3 linked regions of the Homo sapiens genome follow. The protein of the gene in region 1 purifies or fractionates together with the protein of each later gene. This does not show direct contact. Each region holds a gene or a part of one and is shown on either strand. Other genes may lie near its edges.

Region 1 (5,257 bases):
TTATTTCAGGTCTTGTCCAGAATGCCGTGTGATATCAGAGTTTGTAATTCCAAGTGTGTATTGGGTGGAAGATCAGAATAAAAAGAACGAGTTGATTGAAGCTTTCAAACAGGGGATGGGGTAAGTGCTTTTGAGTTTCGACGTGCCCCTGCTGCCTGCCTGGCTCTGCTGTCAGCCCGTGTCCTCGTTCTCCTTCCCAGGAGTGTGGTCTTAGGGGCCTCTTCCTCTCTTCCTTCTCTCAGGCACCATGCTGGGCTCTGGGATGCAGCAATGAGCAAGGACATGGTGATGTGGACCTGTTTAGTTTTGGTGTTTTTTTTTTTTTTTTTTTTTTTTCGGTGAGATAGGGTCTCACTCTGTTGCCCAGGCTGGAGTGCAGTGGTGCAATCTCAGCTCACTGCAGCCTCAGCCTCCTGGGCTCAAGCAGGAGCCTCTTGAGTAGCTGGGGCCACCAGTAGTGTGCGCCACCATGCCCAGCTAATTGGCTAATTTTTTTTGGTAGAGACAAGGTTTCGCCATGTAGCCCAGGCTGGTCTTGAACTCCTAGGCTCAAGTGATCCTCCTGCCTCGGCCTCCCAAAGTGCTGGGATTACAGGCATGAGCCACCGTGCCCGGCCTCAAATGTTCCTCTTTATCCTGGTTGTCAGCATGTTGATATTTTGCCTAGGAGTGGAGTGGTTTTTCTCTACGCTTATGTCACTCCCCAAGATGAGCGAAATTTTAGCTATTGTTTCATTAACTTTTTTTCTGTCTTGTTTTTTTCTTTTCCTGCTGGGACTCTACTTCCGTTTATGATAGTTTTTTTATATTGTTCATAGATCTCTGGGGATATTCATTCTTTTTCAATCTTTTTTTCTTTTCATCTCCTTGAACATAGTTGTAGCAGCTACTTTGAAATCCTTGTTATCTTGAAGTTGACCTCTGTTGTCTTTTAAGAATGGATCACATTTTCCTGATTCTTCGTATGTCTAGTAATTTTAGATTTTATCCTTGACATTGTAAATATTACATTGTAGAGAGACTTAGGATTCTGTTATGGTTTATCTGTAAAGTGATGATTTTTTTTTTTTTGAGACGGAGTTTCACTCTTGTTGCCCAGGCTGGAGTGCAGTGGCACAATCTCGGCTCACTGCAACCTCTGCCTCTCGGGTTCAAGCGATTCTCCTGCCTCAGCCTCCCGAGTAGCAGGGATTACAGGCATGCACCACTGCACCTGGCCAATTTTTTGTATTTTTAGTAGAAACGGGGTTTCACCATGTTAGCCTGGCTGGTCTCAAACTCCTGACCTCAGGTGATCCGCCCACCTCGGCCTCCCAAAGTGCTGGGATTACAGGCATGAGCCACTGCGCCTGGCCAAGTGTTGCTGTTTTTAACAGGCAGGTAAATTGTTTGAACTCAAACCCAGGTAGCAGTTCAGATCTCAGTTCTGGTTTTGCATTCGTAGCTGACTTTGTCGCATTCCTGTGTGGTTTGGGAGTTAGTCAGATTTGGGCAGAGTTTATACACAGCCTTTGAGCACTTTTTCACAGGCCCCTTACTTTGTGGGATTGCTTCCTCACTTTCCAATGGCTGTGATTTCCTTGAACTCTTGTCTTTTAGTTCTTCAGGCCAGAAAGATTGGATTTCCCCTTGGAGTTTTAGCCACCCCATGTGGTTATGATTTTGGCCTGCTCCAGGATAAGAGCTACTTCTTTTTTTTTTTTTTTTTTTTTTTTTGGAGATGGAGTCTTGCTTTGTAGCCCAGGCTGGAGTGCAGTGGCACAGTCTCAGCTCACTGCCACCTCCGCCTTCCAGGTTCAAGCACTTCTGCCTCAGCCTCCCAAGAAGGTGGGACTACAGGCGCATGCCGCCACGCCTGGCTAATTTTTGTATTTTAGTAGAGACAGGGTTTCACTGTGTTTCCCAGGCTGGTCTTGAACTCCTGAGCTCAGGCAATCCACCTGCCTCGGCCTCCCAAAATGCTGGGATTACAGATGTGAGCCACAAAAGCTACCTTTTTTAAAAAAGGTAACTTAGCCTTTGCCATTGCTATTCTTCTTTGTGTTTACTCCTCCAAAGAATCTAACTGCGTTTGTTCATTCTCTGGTGCCTTCAGGTCTTCTTGAAATATTTGTGTTAAGACTTATCTGCAGGAGGGTTGGGTATGGCAGGCGTTTACTTGTCATACTAAAAGTGAAACTATGCATTACCTTTTTTAATGGTTCCTTTATGTTGCATATTAGTTTACTAAAGCTTGATTTTTTTTTTTTTTTTTTTTTTACCATTTTTTCCTCATACAATCTTCCTGTGTGTCCACAAGAGGGCAAGGCGTGGCAAGCAGAGGGGTCCCAGCTTGTAGAAAAGGGCCCCAGCCTGTAGAAAAGGGTCCCAGCCTGTAGAAAGGGGCTCTGCTGAAAAGCAGTCTGGAGATTGTTATTGCTATTTGGATCTTTCCTTGCTTTGCTTTCCTTTAATGACTGTGTTTTTTGCAATCCACAAACATTTACTGAGTACTCACTATGGGTCAGGTACCTTCTAGCTAAGCACCACTGGGGGATGTAGAGATTAGTAAGACAATTTCTTTTTTCTTTCGAGTCTCGCTCTGTCACCCAGGCTGGCAGTGGCATGATTTCAGCTCACTGCAACCTCCGCCTCCAGGGTTCAAGTGATTCTTCTGCCTCAGCCTCCCGAGTAGCTGGGATTACAGGTGTGCGCCACGACACCCAGCTAATTTTTGTATTTTTTTAGTAGGGATGGGGTTTCGCCATGTTGGCCAGGCTGGTCTTGAACTCCTGGCCTCAGATGATCTACCCACCTCAGCTTCCCAAAGTGCTAGGATTATAGGTGTGAGCCACTGTGCCCCGCCAAGTAAGACAACTTCATGGGAAACTGCAAAAGGGCAATTATGATACAGGTTTGCTGGTGACCAGTTCTTCATGAGGGACCATCTATCACAACAGAGAAAGCACTTGGATCCACCGGGGGCTGCCAGGGGAAGCAGCATGGGAGCCTGAACCATGAAGCAGGAAGCACCTGTCTGTAGGGGGAAGTGATGGAAGGACATGGGCACAGAAGGGTGTAGGTTTTGTGTCTGGGGGACACTGGGAGTGGCTCCTGGCATTGAAACAGGTGTGTAGAAGGATGTGGTGGGACCTACAGACTGGAATCTAAGGGACACTTGAATCCCAGTGTGACCATGGTCTTTAAGAACAGGTTGGGGCCAGGCGCAGTGGCTTATGCCTGTAATCCCAGCACTTTGGGAGGCTGAGGAGGGCAGATTGCTTAAGTCCAGGGGAGACATAGGGAGACCTCATCTCTTTAAAGAAAAAAAAAAGGTTGGGAAGCTCCTCCGTGCTGCTCTGAAGGTGGAAACTGGTGGGAGTGGGAGGGAGGCCAGTGAGGAAGTGGCCCTGGCAGGCAGGCCCCAGAGGCTTCCACAAGTGTGGGAACCCAAAGGAAGGGGAGATTGGGAAGTGATTTGTAAACAGAATGAACACAGTTGGGTGTGAGAGCCGAGGACACAGAGTGAGTCAGAGTGAACTGGAGGCTTTTGGCCTTGGTGACCAGATAAGCCTGGGGGAGGAAAAAGAGTAATATTCTTGTGAGAGTGGGGGACCAGTATATAATGTGTTTGACCTGATCGAGTTCATAGCCAGTGTGCTAGGATGCTCTGGAGTTGTCCAGCAGGCTCTGGTGAGAGCAAACTGCTCACGGTCATTTGAAGTCCGCTCAGAACTCCAGGCAAGCAGGGGCCTGGAGGATGTGTCGTCCACACACCTGCTCTCCAGCCACCTGTGCTCAAATCAGATCAGCTGGCCAGGGAGCTTGTTCTCTCTCCCCCCACCCTACCCCCCCGCCACCACCCCCAGTGAGACGAAGTCTCACTCTGTCTCCCAGGCTGGAGTGCAGTGGCACAATCTTGGCTCACTGCAGCCTCCACCTCCTGGGTTCAAGCAATTCTCCTGCCTCAGCCTCAGCCTCCCGAGTAGCTGGGATTACAGGTGCCAGCCACCACACCCAGCTCATTTGTGTATTTTTAGTAGAGATGGGGTTTCGCTGTGTTGGCCAGGCTGGTCTCAAACTCCTGACCTCAAGTGATCCACCCACCTTGGCCTCCCAAAATGCTGGAATTACAGGTGTGAGCCACCACACCCGGCCAGAGGGCTTTTCTTTATGCTGCTATGAAGCCGTCCTCAGAGAACTTCACCACCGGCCTGCGGCCATCCCATCTGACAAGACGGAAAACCACTGGATTCAGGAGCCTCCTTTCCCTGTTCTTGTCTCCCGCTGTCACACACCCCAGCTGCCCCTGACAGCAGCGTGCCCTTTCTGTTGTTTGGCTTTATTTCTGTGACTTTCCCCTTCCTCTGTACTCCGAGATGGCCCTCTGGATTCTTGGGTATCTTTTTTTTTTTAACTTCAGTTTGGGATCCTTTATGATTGGATAAACCAGAGTTCATTTGAGCAAAATGGGAATTCATTTGATTGAGTTTCCTTGGGCAGGGTTCTTAACATAGAGGTCTGTGGGGAGAATGGTAGAATTAAGAGAGAGGGAAAACATTTTGAACTGTTTGGTCACTGTATGCTGTAGACCCATGTTTTATGCATTGAAAAACACTGTTCAGAGAAGGGGTCCAAAGCACATAAGGCGTGAAGAAGCCCTCCCTGGTGCCGAGGTTGGAGACAGGAAAACTGGAAGGAGACCTATGGCTTTAGGCAGTTGCTAAAACCCTCTGCTTTCCCTGTAGCCACCTTGACAGCACTGCGGCCAGGAGGAAGGGGAGAGTTGGCTTGGTGGGGTACCTAGGGAACTTTGAGCAGAGACAAGTGGCCCAGCTTCAGAGCTTAGTGCCCAGAGGAGTGACCAGGCCTGGCTTAGCTCTGTGGTGACCCAGGAGGTGCTCTGGAGCTGCCGGAGGGCCTGTGGAGCACTGCAGTCTCCACACAGCAAGTCCCCAGGCAGGTTAATATCCTTTGCAAGGCTGCAGGTAAGTGGGGATACTTCCTATCCTGCTTGGAAATCAGAATCCCAGCTGTGTGTGACCTGAGACAAATCACTCAACCTCTCCCAGCCTCAGCTGCCCCACCTAGAATGTGAGGCTGACCTACCTCTGGCGTAAGGGTGGTAAGGATGGAGGCAGGCAGTGGCCCAGTTTGGACCCCTCATTTTCCCACCAGCCTCTTGACTTTTTCTTTCTGCTTTTCAGGAAAAAAGCCTGTAAATACTTTGAGCAAGGCAAGGGGACCTGCCCATTTGGAAGCAAATGTCTTTATCGCC
Region 2 (5,257 bases), on another chromosome or scaffold:
TTGTAGCCTTTCTGAAGGCAGGACCACCAGTAAATATCAAATCAATTATGTCTGTCGGTTTCCTGATCTTGCTGCTTTTCTCCTTGAAGACTCCACTATGACAAGAGCTATCTATAGAAAAATGCCTTAAATTTTGGCTGTTTTTAAATGGCTTGATATATTTTTATTACCTGTTAGATTTACCTTCTATGATGGTCCTCCTTTTGCAACTGGACTGCCTCACTATGGACATATACTTGCGGGTACAATTAAAGATATAGTTACAAGATATGCTCACCAGAGTGGGTTTCATGTTGACAGAAGATTTGGATGGGATTGCCATGGCTTACCTGTGGTATGTTTGAGTATCCAGCTTTATAATTTTCTGATTTTTTTTATAAGCATTAGATTTTGTCATATAATATGTTCAAGTATGATGAACGTTGACTGTCAGACCTTCTAGTTCATTTCTATAATATTTGTAGTTTGATTTGTTTTGTTTTCTAGAGTTGCATAGTTGCAGTTGTTTTCATAGGGCAGCGTGGTAACAGTCTTATCACAAATTTTCAGGAATATGAAATTGATAAGACACTGGGAATCAGAGGACCAGAGGATGTGGCCAAAATGGGGATTACAGAGTATAACAATCAGTGCCGAGCAATTGTGATGAGATATTCTGCTGAGTGGAAGGTATGTTGGGTTTTTTTCAGTAGAATGAACAGCAAATGTAGTTACTAAATGGGCATTGAAATGGTTTATGGTCCCTTGTGCTTTTTTTATTAATTTATTTTTTGTAGAAAAAGTGTTAGCTTCCACCTTCAACCCTATTACTTAAACGGTTAGCTTAAACTGAACCATCTCTCTTCTGACTTCTGTGTGCTTAATTGGTCTAACTTTCTTGCATGATCACCAATAGGGAAAAATTCTAATAAGTATAACATGATATATAGGCCTTTTCTTTTTTTCTCAAATACTTTTTTCAATTTTTTTAACTTTTCATTTTGAAATAATTTGACTTATTAAACAATTGAAAAAGTAGTATGATGGGTTCCCCTATATCCTTCATCCATCTTTCCCAGCTGCTAACATCTTCGGTAACCATAATATTAATAGAATTTTCAAAAGCAGTTGCCCCATTAATTTTTATTTCTGACCAATCACATATTGCATTTGGTTGTCATGTCTTTTTAGTCTTCTTAAGTATGGAACATTTATTTAGTCCTTTGTATTTCATGGCCTTCTCACTTTTGAAGATTGCAGAACAGCTATTTTCTATAATGTCTCTCAATGTGTGAGGTTTCCTGATTTAATTTAGGTTATGCATTTTTGGTGACAATGCCACAGAAGTGATGCTATGCCCTTCTCAATGCATTATATCAGGTGGCATGTGTTGCGGCTATGTCACATTGATGGTGATAACTTTGTTCACTTGGTTAAAGTGCTGTCAGCTTTCTGCTTTGTAAAGTTGTAGTTTTTCCTTTGTAATTAATAAGTATCTTGTGGGGAGATTCTTTCCAAATATTCTTTTTTTTGTCATACATTCACTTATTAATTTTAACATCCATGGATGGTTTTTGCCAGTAATAATTATGCCTGTGATATTTGCCAAGTGGTGGTTTTGGTAGACTTTTATAAGTGAATATTTATACTTGTAAATAACATTTTGTGCATGTAGGATGAATGCCGAGAAAACTGGTTCTTAACCTTACATAATATGTTGTTGGCAGTATAGATTTACTTGTACCATTGATTATTCTGTTTTCCCAAAATTTTCATTTGTGATGACAACAGAAATAAACACACATTGATGTACAATTATAAATATCATTGTCTAATACTGTTCTAATATTAATATTTTAAAGTCTACTGTTAGCAGACTTGGCCGATGGATTGACTTTGACAATGACTATAAAACTCTGTATCCACAATTCATGGAATCAGTCTGGTAGGTTTATTTAAAATTGTAAATATGGTAAATATTCTATTCTGTTGTATTGATAATTGGAAAAATGCACTAGCATGAATCAGTTTATTTTTGAGTCCATCGTTATTTCTCTGAAAATCTTTGGGAACAGGTTTGTTTTTGAATGTAGAACTTTTATTTTTATTTTTTTGAGACTGAGTCTCGCTCAGTTGCCCAGGCTGGAGGGCAGTGGCACAGTCTTGGCCCACTGCAACCTCCGCCTCTCAGGTTCAAGCGATTCTCTTGCTTCAGCCTCCCAAGTAGCTGGGATTACAGGCGCCCGCCACCATGCTTGGCTAATTTTTGTCTTTTTAGTAGAGATGGGGTTTCACCTTGTTGGCCAGGGTGGTCTCGAACTTCTGACCTAGGTGATCCATCCACCTTGATCTCTCAAAGTGCTACGATTACAGACGTGAGCCACTGCGCCCAGCCTGCCAGTTGCTTTTCTTAACATTATGTGTTAAATATCATTCGATATCAGTAGATATTAGCATTTTAATGTCTGCCTGATGTCTTACTATATTGATCTGTTATAATTTACCAGCCAGTCTCCCAATGAAAGACATTGTTTTTTCACTTATTTGGCAGACAGAAACTCTAAAAAGAAAATGGCATAAATGTTTGCATTTTCAGAAATAGAATTTTGTTCTGTAATTGTGAAACTCCATCTCTTACCAGGTGGGTCTTCAAACAACTCTATGATAAAGGCCTTGTTTATAGAGGTGTGAAAGTCATGCCCTTCTCTACGGCATGTAACACTCCACTTTCCAACTTCGAGTCACACCAGAATTATAAGGTACGTGAAATGTAGAGACATTATTCAGCATTGAGTTTTGTAGGTGGAAGCTGAGTAGTTATGATCACAGTAGGTATTCCCAAGTAGACCCAGTGTGGAATGTTGCCCACGACATCCACCACTTTGACCACTTCTTACTGAGTGCTGGAAATATTGCCAGTTAGTATACTAAGGCTCTGTTAAGATGAGGGATTTTTTTTCCACATTGGATTTATGATGTGTCTTAATGTGATAGGTTTTGCTTGTTTTGACCATATTTTTGTGCCTCTCTGTTGGGTTAACAAGTCCAGCTTTGACATACTTCCTGTAGTCATCGTTTCTTAAGGGTTGAGTAATTTTATGCCTTATCTGGGACCTCATGATATCATTTATTTGTTAACGGTATTTGGAAAAAAATTAATTTGAGATGCCAAATGGTATTATTTTTCCTCTGATGAGATAGAATCAGTTGTTGTTGTTGCTATGATTGAGGTGTTTAGACATGTTTGATGTTTACAGAGTGTATTGTTATACCATATCTAGACAGATATTATATACTAGTAAGTCTTCTGAAATGTGAACCATCTCTTCTCGTGTGTATACTGAGTTGTTTTCAGTTTTGAGAGTTTATCTGACCCTCTGTTTTTAAAGGATGTTGACTTGTTTGGAATTCTTGTTTCATGGCCTAGGTTTGAAAATTACATTAGTAAAATTTGCCTTTCAAAGCACGTTTTATTTATAGAATGCTTTCACATATCCTGTTTGATTGATCTTTGTAAATCCTTGTAAGGCAGGTATGATGATTTCTATTATCTCCTTACCACCTCTCTGTGCTCATGTTTGTATTTTTTTAGTAAAATATTTTAAGCACTTAACAATGTAGAGAATGATATGGTAAACACAAGGTTTCCAAGGCTTACCTTTGTCAAATCTTAATATATTGCTATATTTGGTTTTTGTTTGTTTGTTTGTTTGAGTCAGAGTCTTGCTCTGTCGCCCAGGCTAGAGTGCAGTGGCGCGATCTTGGCTCCCTGCAACCTCCACCTACCCGATTCAAGCAGTTCTTTGCCTCAGCCTCTGGAGTAGCTGGGTTTACAGGTGCCCACCACCACGCATTTTTAGTAGAGACAGGGTTTCACCATTTTGGCCAGGCTGGTCTTGAACTCCTGACCTTGCGATCCACCCACCTTGGCCTCCCAAAGTGTTGGAATTACAGTTGTGAGCCATTGCGCCCGGCCTGTTTGGTTGTTTTTTAAAACACTTGAATGTGGACAGTTTCAGGGACATGCAAAAGTAAACAGAATGGTATAATTAATTTCTGTAGGCCCATTAAGGCCCCCAGCACCAATGACTGGCTAATCTTGCCTCATTCATACACATATTCTTTCCCACTTTCCTTCCAATTCTGAAACAAATTCCAGATATCATATTATTTCATCAAGAAATAATCCAGTATAGATCTTTCATAAATAATCTTTATCTTCTTTAAACATTGCCATGTTAGCATTCGTTGTCACACCTTAAAAAGTCATCAGCAGTTACCTTTTTGTTGTTGTTGTTGTTTTTGAGATAGGATCTCGCTATGTCACCCAGGCTAGAGTGCAGTGGCACGATCTCGGCTAACCACAGCCTTGACCTCCCGGGCTCAAGTGATCTCCCCTTTCAGCCCCCTGAGTAGCTGGGACTACAGGAACATACCACCATACCTGGCTAATTTATGTGTTTCTATAGGAGTGGTTTCACCATGTTGCCTGGGCTGGTCTTGAACTCTTGGGCTCAAGCAGTCCACCCGCCTTGGCCTCCCAAAGTGCTGGGATTACAGGTGTCAGCCACTGCACCTAGCCACCTTTAATAGTTTTTATTTTAATATTCTCAAATTATGTAATTCCTGAACATCATCAGTTCATATTTCTAATGGTTTAATCATTTCCCAAGGGGTTATATTTTATTTTTATTTATTTATTTTTTTAAATCAGGATCTACCAAGACTTAAACACATGGTGACTGTTGTCTTTTAGGTCTTGTACACGTTTCAGTTGGTTATATAACAAGTAGTGGAATTATCGAGTCAGAGTATACTTTGTTTTAATTTTTATTTTTTTGAGACGGAGTCTCACTCTGATGCCCAGGCTGAAGTACAGTGGTGTGATCTTGGCTCATTGCACCCTCCTCCCAGGTTCAAGCAATTCTCCTGCCTCAGCCTCCCGAGTAGCTGGGATTACGGGTGCCCGCCAGCATGCCCAGCTAAGTTTTGTATTTTTAGTAGAGACAGGGTTTCGCCATGTTGGCCAGGCTGGTCTTGAACTCCTTACCTCAGTTGATCCACCTGCCTCAGCCTCCCAAAGTGCGGGTATTTTTACAGGCGTGAGCCACCACGCCCAGGTGAGTCACAGAGTATACTTAATTTTTAGTTCTAATACTGAGGTTGGGAAACTTTCCTCTGCAAATTAAATATTTTAGGCTTTTCAGGCAAAGTGTTCTCAATTTTGTCACCATTCTTAACTCACCCACTGTATGAAACAAGTGATGAGCCAGATTTG
Region 3 (5,257 bases), about 190 Mb from region 1:
GTATATTTTTTGAGATGAAGTCTGTGTCGCTGGGCTGGAGTGCAGTGGCGTGATCTCGGCCCACAGCAACCTCTGCTTCCCTGATTGAAGCAATTCTCATGCTTCAGCCTCCTGAGTAGCTGGGACTACAGGCGTGTGCCACCAAGGCTGGCTAATTTTTGTGTTTTTAGTAGAGACGGGGTTTTACCATGTTACCCAGGCTGGTCTCAAACTCCTGACCTCAAGTGATCCACTCACCTCAACCTCCCAAAGTGCTGGGATTACAGGTGTGAGCCATAATGCCTGGCCTCTATGGTTTATGTTAATACATAATGGTTTCTGAGTGAGGAAGGAAGAGAAAGCTGGAGGAGGAGATGTTATTTTTCAAACCTTTCTCTTTATTTTTGGTCTTCAGTTTATTTTACGTCTTCAGTTTGGCCTATGTGTGGTTTTTCTTTGTACTAATCCTATAAATTGTAAAGTTATGTTTTCACCAAATATAGGAAATAGCACTAAAAATGTGATTATTAATGTCTTCAGAAGATATATGGGATATTAGAGGATTGAATATTTGGAAGATAAAGTGGTTTGAAATTAACACGTGGTTATGTGCTATGCTTCGGAGGGAGGTATTTGTTAATCAAATCTCAGTAGCTTCATGTTAATAAGCAAATAATTCAGAGTTGTTTGTTTCTTGCACCTCATGTTTGCAGCCTATGAATTTAACTATTTTTGCTTATTTTTCCTCAAGATGTTTGAAAGTAGTTAAATGGCTTAGCATGGCCTATGTGTTTTTGTTGCAGAAATAACATTCCAGCTAATTTTACCAGGAGTGGAAATAAATTAAATCATCAGAAAGATACTCGTCAGGCAACTTTTCTTTTCAGAAGAGGCCTGAAGGTATTTAAAAACTTTGGCAGTGTTTTTGTTTGTTTGTTTGTTTTTTCCCAAAGAGGATCCTGAGCAGCCACCTTTAGTAAGCCTCAGTCATAGGCAGCATTGGGTTCAGGATGTGAGGCACGTGGTAGTAGATTAGTTCTTCCTGTTGTATGTTTTTTATTTCCCATCTTTTCTTACCCTCAATAGCAATGTCTTATAAGAATTTAACTCGTTATTTGGGAATAAACCTGTATTTGCCACTCGTTCTCATGTAGGAATTCCAACAGGGAACTGTTGCCAGAATAGCGTGGGCCCCTCTGCTGCACTCACGCACACACCCCACTGGGTTAGGAAGTTCTAGAATAGCACGGGCCCCTCCGCTGCACTCACGCACACGCCCCACTGGGTTAGGAAGTTCTAGAATAGCGCGGGCCCCTCCGCAGCACTCACGCACACGCCCCACTGGGTTAGGAATTTCTAGAATAGCGCGGGCCCCTCCGCTGCACTCACGCACACGCCCCACTGGGTTAGGAAGTTGTAGAATAGCGCAGGCACCTCCGCTGCACTCATGTACACGCACCACTGGGTTAGGAAGTTCCAGAGCAGGATCGCTCTTTGGATTCAAATCCTCTGCTTTCTGTGGTACCTACTGCTTTTTTTTTCCCTTCAGGTGCAGGCCCAGTTGAATACAGAACAACTGCTAGACGATGTAGTAGCAAAGAGAACTCGTCAGTAAGTTTCCATTTGTTTTTTAAGATGTTATTTCAAAACTCCCAGAATACTAACTACCCAAATTATCATGTACCTCAGTCCAGAAGAAATTAATTGAAACCCAAAATAAAATTCAGTCTGAAAGCTGGGCATAGTGGTGCTACACACCTGTAATCCCAGCTAGTTGGGAGACTGAAGCAAGAGAATTGATGGAGCCCAAGAGTTCAAGGCTGTGAAGTGCCATAATGTCACCTGTGTATCGCCACTGCACACCAGCCTGAGCAGCATAGCTCGATGCCACTGCACACCAGCCTGAGCAGCATAACTTGATTGCCACTGCACACCAGCCTGAGCAGCATAGCTCGATGACCAGTGCACACCATCCTGAGCAGCATAGCTCGATGACCAGTGCACACCAGCCTGAGCAGCATAGCTCGATGACCAGTGCACACCATCCTGAGCAGCATAGCTCGATCGCCAGTGCATACCATCCTGAGCAGCATAGCTCGATCGCCAGTGCACACCAGCCTGAGCAGCATAGCTCGATCGCCAGTGCACACCAGCCTGAGCAGCATAGCTCGATGGCCAGTGCACACCATCCTGAGCAGCATAGCTCGATCGCCAGTGCATACCATCCTGAGCAGCATAGCTCGATGGCCAGTGCACACCAGCCTGAGCAGCATAGCTCGGGCTATGGAGACTGTCTCCAAAAAAATTTTTAAACATTGAGGCTAAAATAAATAAATCTTGTTTTGTCCTTTGTTAATTTTCCCCAAAAACCTTTTGAGTTTTCATGTGTCGATATTGTAACAGTTTTAGTGCCACGTAGATTACTTCATTTTTATTATTTTTATTTTTTATTGGCTATACCATTTTAATGAAACAGCTTTTTCTTTTTCTTTTTTTTGCTATAACTGCTTTCATACAAATGAACCTATTTAGGGAATGAATAGAATAAAATTCAGTGGAGCTTTTAGAACATTTGTACAACTTTAAAAACAATAGTTTTCCTTTTCACAGTCTTTTTTTCTTAGCCCTATAAAAAATCTTTTGAAAACCTATTTTATCCTGTTATAATCACACCTCCTAAGTGTGAGTTGTAACATACTAATTCCATCAGTGTGATTAGGTTTTGAGATTAAACTATTTAAAATTATGACTACTTTTTGGAAAATAAAATATATACACTTGGCCCTCTGTGTCTCAAGGGAATTGTTGCCAGGCCCATTGAAGAGATTAAAATCCTCAGATACTCAAGTCCCTTTCAGTCGGCCCTCCATATCCGCGGATTGTCTCTGTGTCTCAGGGGAATTGGTTCCAGGCCCACTGAAGAGATTAAAATCCTCAGATACTCAAGTCCCTTACAATCGGCCCTCCATATCCGTGGATTGTTTTCATTCTGCGGTTGCAACTGATTGAATACATGGACGTAGAACCTGTGGATACAGAGAGCTGGCTGTAAAACATGGTCAGGGCCCAGATATGGTGCCAACTGTGGTGCATGATTTTTAGCAATTGGAGTGTTAGGAAACTGTGAAACTGATACAGGTGGTATTCTTTAGCACAGGGGTCATGACATTAGAAACCATGGGGAAAGAAATAATAATTGTAGCCTTTTTGCTTCTGCAGTGAACAATATTTACATAATTGTGATCATATAAATGTTATTTGTTTTGAACTTTGAGAATCAACCTGTTAGACAAAGCACAAAATAGTTAATTTGAGAACAATATAATGTAAATGTCCGATTTTGACTAATGTGAATATAAAGGAAGAGCTGACAGAAAGTGAGAGGTACAAACAAAGGAGCAGAGGTGGAGGGAAGGAATAGAGGCACTATTATCCTTTCACATAAAGCTGGGGGTGGGTTCAAGAGATTCTGCTGAAAGAAACAGAGATTTAAGTATTTTCAGTTACAAAGGCCTGGAAATAGTGATACAGCCATCAAAATGTTTCATGGTGGGTAAGGAAACTGGAGGATAGTTTGACGAACTAAATCTTTATTCATCATAGCAATTTTTTTTTTTTTTTTTTGAGATGGAGTCTCGCTCTGTTGCCCAGGCTGGAGCGCAGTGGCACAATCTCAGTTCACTGCAACCTCCCCCTCCCGGGTTCAAGCAGTTCTCTGCCTCAGCCTCCTGAGTAGCTGGGATTACAAATACCCACCACCACACCCCACGCCCAGCTTAAATTTGTTTTTTTTTTTTTTTTTTTTGGTAGAGATGGGGTTTCACTATCTTAGCCAGGCTGGTCTTGAACTCCTGACCTCATGATCCACCTGCCTCTGCCTCCCAAAGTGCTGGGATTACAGGTGTGAGCCAGTGCCCGGCTGCAGCAAGGTTTTTTTTTTACTATGTAAGCATCTTGTTTAGTGAATTGGAAGTAACCAGAAAGCAGTAAAAACAGGTTAAAAGTGCTGCCTCTGGAGAGTAGGAATAGAAAGCAGGAGAATAGTGGGGTGAGGGACTGTTGCTTTTTATTAGAAGTTCTTTTGTACTATTTGATTTTTTTAAATTTGTATACATTTATTACACTGAAAAATATTTAATAAATTAATTCAGATGCCCAGTTCCGCACCCAAGATGTTGATTTATTATATCATGGTGGGGTTCAGGTACTTATTTCTTACAAGCTAAGAAAAAGTAATGGCTACTTTTAATGTTCATTTTTATTTTGAATATACATAGGGTTTATCAACTTACATTTAATGAATTTTTTTTATTTTTTTTGAAACTAGATGGCGGACTTCCACCACAAATGGAGGGATTTTGACTGTATCTATTGACAATCCTGGAGCAGTGCAATGCCCAGTGTAAGTTGTTTCTTTCTTTTTGCAAAAATTATAACCTCTCATTACATGAGATCATAAGAAAGTATTGGACTTCTGCTCAGAGAATGATGTCCAAGTTGGGATGAACCAGGAAGACAGTAATACCTGTGATACAATATGGAAACAGTATATGGTGTAAAGTAAAGTAAGAGCTTTCTTGATTCCTGATTCTGCAGCCCTAAATGACCACGTTGGAACAGTGTTTTTTATGTTTTAAAAATTATGTGCATGTATACTCTGTGTACCCTTTTTTTGGAGGCAAGGTCTGGCTCTGTTACCCAGGCTGGAGTGCAGTGCCATGATCATGGCTTATTGCAGTCTTGACCTCCCAAGCTCAAGCGATCCTCCTGCCTCAGCCTCCCGAGTCCTGAGGAGCTGCAGCGACAGTTGCCCACCACCATGTCTGGCTTTTTTGTTTGTTTGTGCCCAGACTGGTCTTGAACTCCTAGACTTAAGCAGTCCTCTTGCCTTGGCCTCCCAAAATGCTAAGGTTACAGGTGTGAGCCACTGCACCTGACCCAATATATATATTTTTGTGTACAATAATAAACGAGATGATGGTATACATGCTACTTCTCCTAATCCCTGTAATGTTTTCGATGTCTTTATTTTTCAGACCATACAGACCTACGTTCTCTTTAAATTTATTGCTTTATAAACTTTGTCAATTTATGGAGCTTATGTTCTATTCAACCATCTCTTGATTTTTTTAAGAGATAACGTCTCACTCTGATGCCCAGGCTAGAGTGCAGTGGTGCCACCATAGCTCACTGCTGCCTCGAACTCCTGGGCTCCAATAATTCTCCTGCCTCAGCCTCCTGAGTAGCTGGGAACATAGGCATGCACCACCACACCCAG

Evidence for each region. The genes of interacting proteins can lie anywhere in the genome.
Region 2: the proteins of MKRN2 (region 1) and IARS1 purify together in Homo sapiens (affinity purification with mass spectrometry, with the first as the bait; one large-scale study listed by BioGRID). This does not show direct contact.
Region 3: the proteins of MKRN2 (region 1) and FYTTD1 purify together in Homo sapiens (affinity purification with mass spectrometry, with the first as the bait; one large-scale study listed by BioGRID). This does not show direct contact.

The regions. Positions count from the first base shown.
Region 1 is NC_000003.12:12,576,622-12,581,878, forward strand, and holds part of MKRN2 (E3 ubiquitin-protein ligase makorin-2), read left to right. Parts: intron 1-9; coding exon 10-120; intron 121-5,186; coding exon 5,187-5,257. UniProt on the Homo sapiens protein: E3 ubiquitin ligase catalyzing the covalent attachment of ubiquitin moieties onto substrate proteins.
Region 2 is NC_000009.12:92,283,203-92,288,459, reverse strand, and holds part of IARS1 (isoleucine--tRNA ligase, cytoplasmic), read left to right. Parts: intron 1-177; coding exon 178-334; intron 335-486; coding exon of another isoform or gene 487-549; coding exon 550-669; intron 670-1,841; coding exon 1,842-1,924; intron 1,925-2,620; coding exon 2,621-2,738; intron 2,739-5,257. UniProt on the Homo sapiens protein: Catalyzes the specific attachment of an amino acid to its cognate tRNA in a 2 step reaction: the amino acid (AA) is first activated by ATP to form AA-AMP and then transferred to the acceptor end of the tRNA.
Region 3 is NC_000003.12:197,772,621-197,777,877, forward strand, and holds part of FYTTD1 (UAP56-interacting factor), read left to right. Parts: intron 1-782; coding exon 783-879; intron 880-1,528; coding exon 1,529-1,590; intron 1,591-4,306; coding exon 4,307-4,381; intron 4,382-5,257. UniProt on the Homo sapiens protein: Required for mRNA export from the nucleus to the cytoplasm. Acts as an adapter that uses the DDX39B/UAP56-NFX1 pathway to ensure efficient mRNA export and delivering to the nuclear pore.